Homo sapiens: one gene and its partner. The gene in region 1 interacts genetically with each later gene. Each region holds a gene or a part of one and is shown on either strand. Other genes may lie near its edges.

Evidence for each region.
Region 2: changes in RALB (region 1) and IRF3 together harm fitness less than expected from each alone (positive genetic interaction), as found in Homo sapiens cells (one study listed by BioGRID).

The regions. Positions count from the first base shown.
Region 1 is NC_000002.12:120,251,068-120,254,973, reverse strand, and holds the start of RALB (ras-related protein Ral-B), read right to left. Parts: upstream 2,123-3,906; 5' UTR 1,994-2,122; intron 1,917-1,993; exon of another isoform or gene 1,243-1,916; intron 1-1,242. UniProt on the Homo sapiens protein: Multifunctional GTPase involved in a variety of cellular processes including gene expression, cell migration, cell proliferation, oncogenic transformation and membrane trafficking.
Region 2 is NC_000019.10:49,664,224-49,668,129, forward strand, and holds the start of IRF3 (interferon regulatory factor 3), read right to left. Parts: upstream 1,601-3,906; 5' UTR 1,408-1,600; exon of another isoform or gene 919-1,407; intron 624-918; 5' UTR 616-623; coding exon 451-615; exon of another isoform or gene 280-450; coding exon of another isoform or gene 220-279; exon of another isoform or gene 1-219. Other genes in the region: BCL2L12 (bcl-2-like protein 12), read left to right, coding at 2,470-2,576, 2,796-2,938.

The DNA of each region.
Region 1 (3,906 bases):
CAGACGGGGTGGCTCACACCTGTGATCCCCAGCACTTTGAGAGGCCAAGGTGGTAGGATGGCTTGAGCCCAGCAGTTCGAGACCAGCCTGGGCAACATGGTGAAACCCCATCTCTACAAAAAATACAAAAATTAGCTTGGCATGGTGGTGCAAGACTGTACCAAGCTACTCGGGAGGCTGAGGTGGGAGACTCACCTGAGCCTGGGAGGTGGGGGCTGCAGTGAGCGGTGATCACACCACTCCACTCCAGCCTGGGAAATAGCGCAAGACTCTGCCCCCAAAAACAAACAAAAAAAGGATTATCTCAATTCTCAGGCTTAAAATTTTTCATGGAATCTCAAGCCATCTTCAGTCAAGGCAAGAATTTAGAACTTTTCTACCCTCATCTTCTACCAAAATCTCTTCATATGCCGTGGAAGACTCTAAATCCTGTTTATCCTTATGGTCTAGGTCCCAAGTTCCCAAAAGATATCTAATAACTTACACTATTTTCCACACACAATCCTGGGAAAATGTTCTATTCCTCGGGCAGAGGGAAATCTGGCTGAGATCTCCGATAAGAGTGCTGTTTCCAATGGGAAGCAATGTGAATGGGCAAGGAAGGAAAGCCCCAGATGTGGTCAGAATAAAGCAGACCGGCTGACAACTAAAGCCACGCACAAAGGATATGTCTCCCTGGCCTTCTTCTCCCCCGCTCCTATTTCGTTTAATCCTAACAATTAGGATAACTATCATCACCCTTCTACAGTTGCTGACTCTGGAGCTCAGAGGGGGAAAGATCGTGCTCCACATCACAACACCGGTAAACTCTCAGAACCTGCATCAAACCCAGGTCTTCAAACTCACCCCTCCTGTTTTTCCCAATATGCAGTGCTACCTTTCATGGTCGGCCCATTTCTGGGAACTTCGATACTGTGCTTCTATTGCTCCAGGTTTAAGGAGCATTCTGAGCCTTGACCGGTTCTGAGCTTTGACATCCAACAATCTTATGGCTCTGCTTGGAACATCAGTCATTGACACCTCTAAAAGATTCACTATCCCCTCTGATACTCCATGCCCACCATCCATCCCCAAAACTTCAGAAGAAATGAGGTTAGGAAACCAGGACAGAGCAGAAAGTGCACTGTTCTACAAGGGCTGAAGATGAGTCACAGGTAACCCAGATGAGCAATCAGCCAAGTCTCTTCCACGGCCAATTCATTCAGTCCGCCAGGCACAAGCACTTCTCTCCCGAAGACTCACCTGATAAGAACACCAAAGTTCCAACGTTTCTCGTTGGAAATGAGCACAGAGAGGACACTGCTCACACAAGCAGTGTGGACGCAGCAAGCTCCGCGCCCCGCAACCCTGCACCGAGCACGGTTAACCTCACACTCCCACAGGCGGCAAGAACCGGGACGGCGATGCCCAGTCCAGGCGCTTCCCCTTAGAAGCCCCTTCGCCGCTGGCCCCTATCAGAAAGGAAAGGGGAGGAGGCTGGGGGAGAAACAACTTTATGCTCATTTGCAAGACAGGACCAAAACAAAACCAGCAAACCGAAGCCCTTTAGGAACACCGCCCAGTTCACGGCGCGTGCAAGTTCCGAGGGCAGTTAAGTTTTTGCAACACTTCCCAGCCCTGACCCTGCCCAAGCCGCGGCCGGAGGACTGAGGAAGTGGACGGTCCCGAGCGGGAGGCCCGCGGCAGGAAGTGGAAGCAGAGCCATCTGCGGGATAGGGAAGGAACCGCGGCTACAAGGGAGAGGCGGAGGCCGCCCCCACTTCCTCAGCCCCAGGCAGCCCAGGAAGCCGAGACTCCCCCAGGGAGTCCTCCCGGAGCGGAGCGGGGCCGCTGCCGGGGCGTCGCCCTCCGCCGGCCTCGGGGCGCGACATGTCCTGCCGCCGCCCGGCCACAGCCCGGCACGGAGGGAGCAAGAGGCTGCGGGCGTGCGGCGTACCCCACTCCCCAGCCCGCGCCCCACCCCGCCCGGGGCCCGCGGGCGCCGCGCCCTTACCAGGGACCAGTCCCGCCGCCTCCGCCGTCCGCACCCGGCCCGCAGCTCTTAAACGCGCCCCGCCCCCTCCCGGGGCCGGACCCCAGCCGTCCTCCACCGATTTGTCATTGAGCTGCCGGGCTCGCTTTCCCACCCCCCGAGCGCGCCTCCGGCGTCGCCTAGGCAACCCCTCCTCTCGAGAGCGCGCCCTCGCTTCCGTTCTTGCCCTCTCCTCGGAAGCCACGCCCGTCGGGGGGCTGTCAGCCAATCCGAGGCTGATTTTCCAAGCAGCGGGCGGCCGGGGAGGAGGTTTCACCAATGAGAAGCTGCCCCAGGCACGGGGGGGCGGGCCCAGCGCGCCTGCCCCGTCCCCCTCTGTTTCTCTCTCTGCCCCTCGGACACGCAGCTGGTAACCCTGCGGCAGTGGAGGAGCTGCCCGCCGGTATTGAGGGCGGGTGCGGGTGCACAAGGTGGGGCGCCAGTTGTGGGATTCAGGCCAGGGCTAGGACGAAGTAATGGAAAGCAAAAGCGAAGGACAGACCTGATCATACAGAAACAGAAGAAAATTACGAGGTGGCGAAGAGTGCTGGAGCGCGGCGATGGGGATGCCGCCCGGGGGTCTTGGGGCGGGACTCCACCTGCCGCCACCACTCGCTTCGCTGATGACATCCCATTAGCAGTAATGGAGTTAGTGAGTGCATGGCGGAGACTGGACCCAGGCCGCCTACAAGGGCCAGAATCCCACCCCAGCCATAGCCTCGAGGCAGGAAGTGCAGTGGGCAAGCTCCCTGCCAAAGCCCAGGAACGTGTGATTTTGTATCCAGTACAGCTTCATCTCGGTGGATTTTCCTTCCTAACCACCTCCTCCTCCACAGGTTTTGTGACCGTGCTGACCCCTACGCAGACCTCATGAGAGTCACAAGCCATCGCAACTGACAGTTTAAACGTCTGCCTCTTATCTCTAAGGGAGGGAACTATCTCTTATGCAATGTGATATCCATGGCTGCTAGCACAGTGTAATTAATTCTTTCATTGTTGATCATTGTAAGTTAGGATGCATGTGTATACTATATTGGAGGCTTTGGGCCATGATTAGATTGCTATGTATCTACCAGATCCAGTCCCTCCATCAGCATCTATATCAAAAAGCACAGAAGCTTTACCTTAGTCTTAAGTGACCAACTTAACAAAAAAGTGCAATCAGAAGAATATCCTAGTGTTAGCCTACTAAGTATTCTGTTTTTACCATTCTCATTCACATTTAAAACTTTTATTGAGTGCTAATCGTATGACAGACACTTTGCTAGGTACAGTAAGGAGATGGGGTAGGAGGCTTCTCAAAGAGGAAGCTCCCTAGTATTTATAACCTAGAAGAGGAATCAGACCCAAACCTTTTCTTACGGAGTAACAGTTAAGTGCACAGGTTTGGAGTCTGGAAGCATAGGATTAAAGGAGGGCTCTACCTTGTGACTAGCAGTTACTTAATTAGGAAACTACTTCTGTGGGCTTTAGTTTCACCAGCTGCCCAATAGCAGCACCTCCATGCTATAGGTAAGAAGATGTACATGCAAGTCCACATAGAGCTCTCAGTACAGTGCTAGGAACTTGGTGAGTGCCTCAGGAATGTGAGCTTACATTAGTGATTGCCACCAGAGGCCACGATGTACAGTCAAGTGTGTGATCACCAATCTGGTACAGCCTTATCTCCCAAAGCCCATCTGTATCAAGTGTGACCGCGTGCAGCCTGGTGGAAAGGGCCTGCTGTGGTGGTACCCTTTGTCAAATGCAAGTATAGAGAGGAGAGCAGCTGCAGCAGCCTACCCAAGTGAAAAGGGTATGATAGTTGAGGGAACAGGGTCAGAAATCAGGCCACAGGCCAGGATTCTACTGTTCCCACCTGCCCCCCATCCCCTAGGACCCACAGCAGATGCAGG
Region 2 (3,906 bases), on another chromosome or scaffold:
CACCACCTGCCCCGCGACACCCTCTGTGATAACCCCGCCCCTCACACTGTTTACCACCTCTGGCATATACTAATTCGGTAGTTAGGAACCTCAGATTTGGGGCTCCAGGCCTCACCTCTGATGTTTCAAGAACCATCCCCCAGTATCTATCCTACAACCAAGAGCCCCGGCCTCTAGAAAGCCCCAAACCCCCAGGATGCATTTCCTTTGCGTACTAACCGGCTTTCCCGGTTTTATTCCCGTAACCCTGCAGCTCCAACCCTGCTTGCGCCCCACCATCAGTCAGCGGATCCGGCTAGCCCCGCCCCTCCCGTTCTAGCCCCACCCACCAGCGTTGGCACGAGCCCGCCCCTCGCGCGCCACCTCCGCCTTCTCAGCCGGGCCCACTAGGAGTCCTTTCCGCCCAGCGCGCAGCTCCGGGTTTCCAGCGTCCCAGGTCGTCGCACGCACCTGGAAGATTCCGAAATCCTCCTGCTGTGCATCCTGCCGTAGGCCGTGCTTCCAAGGGATGCGGAAGCGCGTGCGGCTCTTGTTCACCCAGGCCACGCCCTCCAGTTGCCCCAGGTCCAGCTGCGACACCAGCCAGGGCAGGATCCGTGGCTTTGGGGTTCCCATGGTCCGGCCTGCGCGTATAGGGCATTTCCTGGGCGCGACCGGCCTCCCCCGGACCCACCTGGCCTGGAGTTTCCGCACCCAGACCTCCTTCTCACGGGCCACGGCACAGGTCCTTCACCCATATTTTCGGGGGTACAAACAGGAAACCTCCTCTTCCCATCCTCCCATCCTCCCGAGAGGCTCTCTAATCAGCTAGGGTTCCTTCCCATATCCATGGCACATCCTTCCCCAGCGTCTTCAGTGCAGACCCTCCACTCCCTCAATTCCGCCAGTATAGACCTCCTCCCTCCCCCACATCATCGAAAGTAAGTATCCCCACTTTCAGGGTAGCATCCTCTTTCCCTAGTTATTTCAGTGCAGAATCGATTCACGTGTAAGCCTCTACCTCCTGCACTTACCCCAATGTAGACCCCCTTCCACAGTCCCCCTACAGAAGATCTCCCAAAACATTTCCAACACAGAACTTCCATTCAATTCCCCTCCGACTGCCCGCCTCCCTCCTCCAGGACAGAGCACGCCCCAGGTTTCGAGACTGAACTACCCCCATCTACGGAGTCCACCCCTCCCTCTCTAGAACCCCCTCAGTGTAGACGCCTCCTCTTTTCCTCTTTCCTCCCTACTTTTTCTAGTTTTTCTGCAGCCGACCTCCAGCGTCGGCCACTGTAGCTCCTTCCTTGCTCCACTTTCCCCAGAGTACACAGCCTGCCTTTCCACTCTCCGTGCAGACCCATCCTCTTTCCCGCTCCTCGCTCTCGGACGCCACCAACGCTCTCCCGGGCTCTTCCGCGTTACCTACGATGGAAGGTCGGGGCGTGCGGGCAGCTGGAACCCACCCCTGTCTTGGAGCTCCGGGTAGCTCTCAAACTCGAGGCTGCGCACCCCCTTTCCCGTCAGCTGAGCTCTAGAGCGCTGGGGCTTTCTTTTTGATCGACTTCTTGAAATAAAACCAACTTTATCATTCTTTGGGTAACAGACCCAAAAGCCGATGGGACGGCCCGCTGGGCTGTTCCCGCCCCTATGCCCTTTTTTGGGTTTCCGGCCAGAGGCATGCTGGGAGCGTCACATGCAAATTGAGCGTGCACCCAGCGTTCCGCCCTTTCTACGCTGGGCCGGTTATCGACCCGGCCCAGTGCGCAGGCGCGGGAAAGTTGAACTAATAAAGTTTGTACGAGTTCAGTGGAGGAGACCGCAAGTTGAGTGGAGGAGGCGGCGGTGGGGCCCCGGACCAGGTCAGCGGGGTGTTGACGAGGGGTGGGGTGAGGAGGGAAGAGGAGGGGGCCGGGATCCAGTGGTGGGCACCCCAGTCCCGCTTCTCTGATATCCAAGGGTCCAGGGTCCTCTAGATTCCAGCAGGGGTCGGAGATTTGGAACTACACCTCACAGCAGGCTGCGCGGCGAAGAAGCGCGGACCTAGGGGAAGATTTGCCCTGAAACCTCTTGGGATTGGTAGTTCCCGATGCTTTAAGGGTTTCAGGAGTTTGGCATATGCCTCTTATAGAATCCAGGAGTTGGGGCGCTAAGCCTCTTCTTCCTGGGAGACCTAAGGGTCTGGGGCTCCAGTTCCTTTTTCTCTAAGACTCAGAAGTCCAGGACCCCAGCTCCCTCCTCCTTTAGACCCACGAATCTGGGCACCCAGCCCCACCACCTTTCCTTGGATCGAAGAGTCTTTTTCCTGATCGCTTTTTCGTCTGAGGACTCAAGAGTCTAGGCCCCCAGACCCACACTCTCCAAAGGACCCAGGAGTCCAGGCCCTCAGCACCTTCCTTGGGACTCACAAGTCCTGGTCCCCAAGCCTCCACTTCTTGCTAAACCCTTGGAGTCCAGTCCCTAACCCTCTCTCTCACAGGTGCCTCCATGGCAGGCTCTGAAGAGCTGGGGCTCCGGGAAGACACGCTGAGGGTCCTAGCTGCCTTCCTTAGGCGTGGTGAGGCTGCCGGGTCTCCTGTTCCAACTCCACCTAGGTAAGAGGAGTGGCCCTTCTCCCCCAGGGGCCAGCATTTGAGGCTCCCTCCTAACTCTTGCTCCTGGTCTCAGTCTGTCTCCTCTCTTTATATCTGGCTCTATTCTCTGTCTTTGGGGTTTTGGAGAGAGGTCCTCAGCGGGGGAGGGAGGGAGTTGGGGAAAGAGACTGCTTGCAGGGGATCTCTGGTGGGGTCAGTCTCTGAAGTCCTCCTCTCCAGAAGCCCTGCCCAAGAAGAGCCAACAGACTTCCTGAGCCGCCTTCGAAGATGTCTTCCCTGCTCCCTGGGGCGAGGAGCAGCCCCCTCTGAGTCCCCTCGGCCTTGCTCTCTGCCCATCCGCCCCTGCTATGGTTTAGAGCCTGGTAAGAGATTTCCATGATCATCTATGAAGCCGGCAGAACACGGGATAAGGTGCTAGTTTAAGATCACTCAGCTAGGGGGTGGCTGTGTGGAGTCTCTAGCACCAGCCTTCAGGACAGAACCGTCCTGTCCTCTCCCCTCCCCAGTTAGATTTCTGTCAATTCTGTGGGTTGGCTTTCAGAGAGCATTTGGTCAATCTGGTTGTTGTCTCTTTCCTTCCATAACTACTTCCCTGCCCCTAGGACTTTTGTAGCCAGGAATACCCCTGATAGAGGGGCAGAAGGGCTGGTTTTCAATCACATCTCCCTGGCTGTTTTAGTTGCGTGACTCTGGGGAAAATGCTTTCTCTTCCCTGCTCCCCTGTTTTTCCAATAGCAGAGTAGGAATTGGGGAGGAGGTCACTGGACTTGATCAAGGTGACCCACAAGTTTCCTCATAGGTGTGAACCTGGACAGACTAGTAATGGCTGCTGGGAGTGCTAGCTTGAAAAGGGGTTCACAGCTTGGGAGAGGAAGTGCTGTGATCAATTGGTGATGTCTGTAGTGAGTGAGGGAAGGGGATACTAACAGTAATGTCTTGTGTTTGCCTTCCTTGGATGAGATCATCTTCAAGGTCTAGTTGAGCTCTGACAGTCTTTTGGAGACAGATTGTTGCTCTGTCACCCAGGCTGGAGTGCAGGGGTGCAATCTCGACTCACTGCAATCCCCACCTCCTGGGTTCAAGCGATTCTCGTGCCTCAGCCTCCCGAGTGACTGGGATTACAGGTGCACGCCAGCATACTAGCTGATTTTTATACTTTTAGTAGACACGGGGTTTCGCCACGTTGGCCAGGCTGGCCTCAAACTCCTGGCCTCAAGTGACCCTCCCACGTCGGCCTCCCAAAATGTTGAGATTGCAGACGTGAGCCACCGCACCCTGTCAGCTCTGACATTCTTTTTTTTTTTTTTTTTTTTGAGACGGAGTTTCGCCC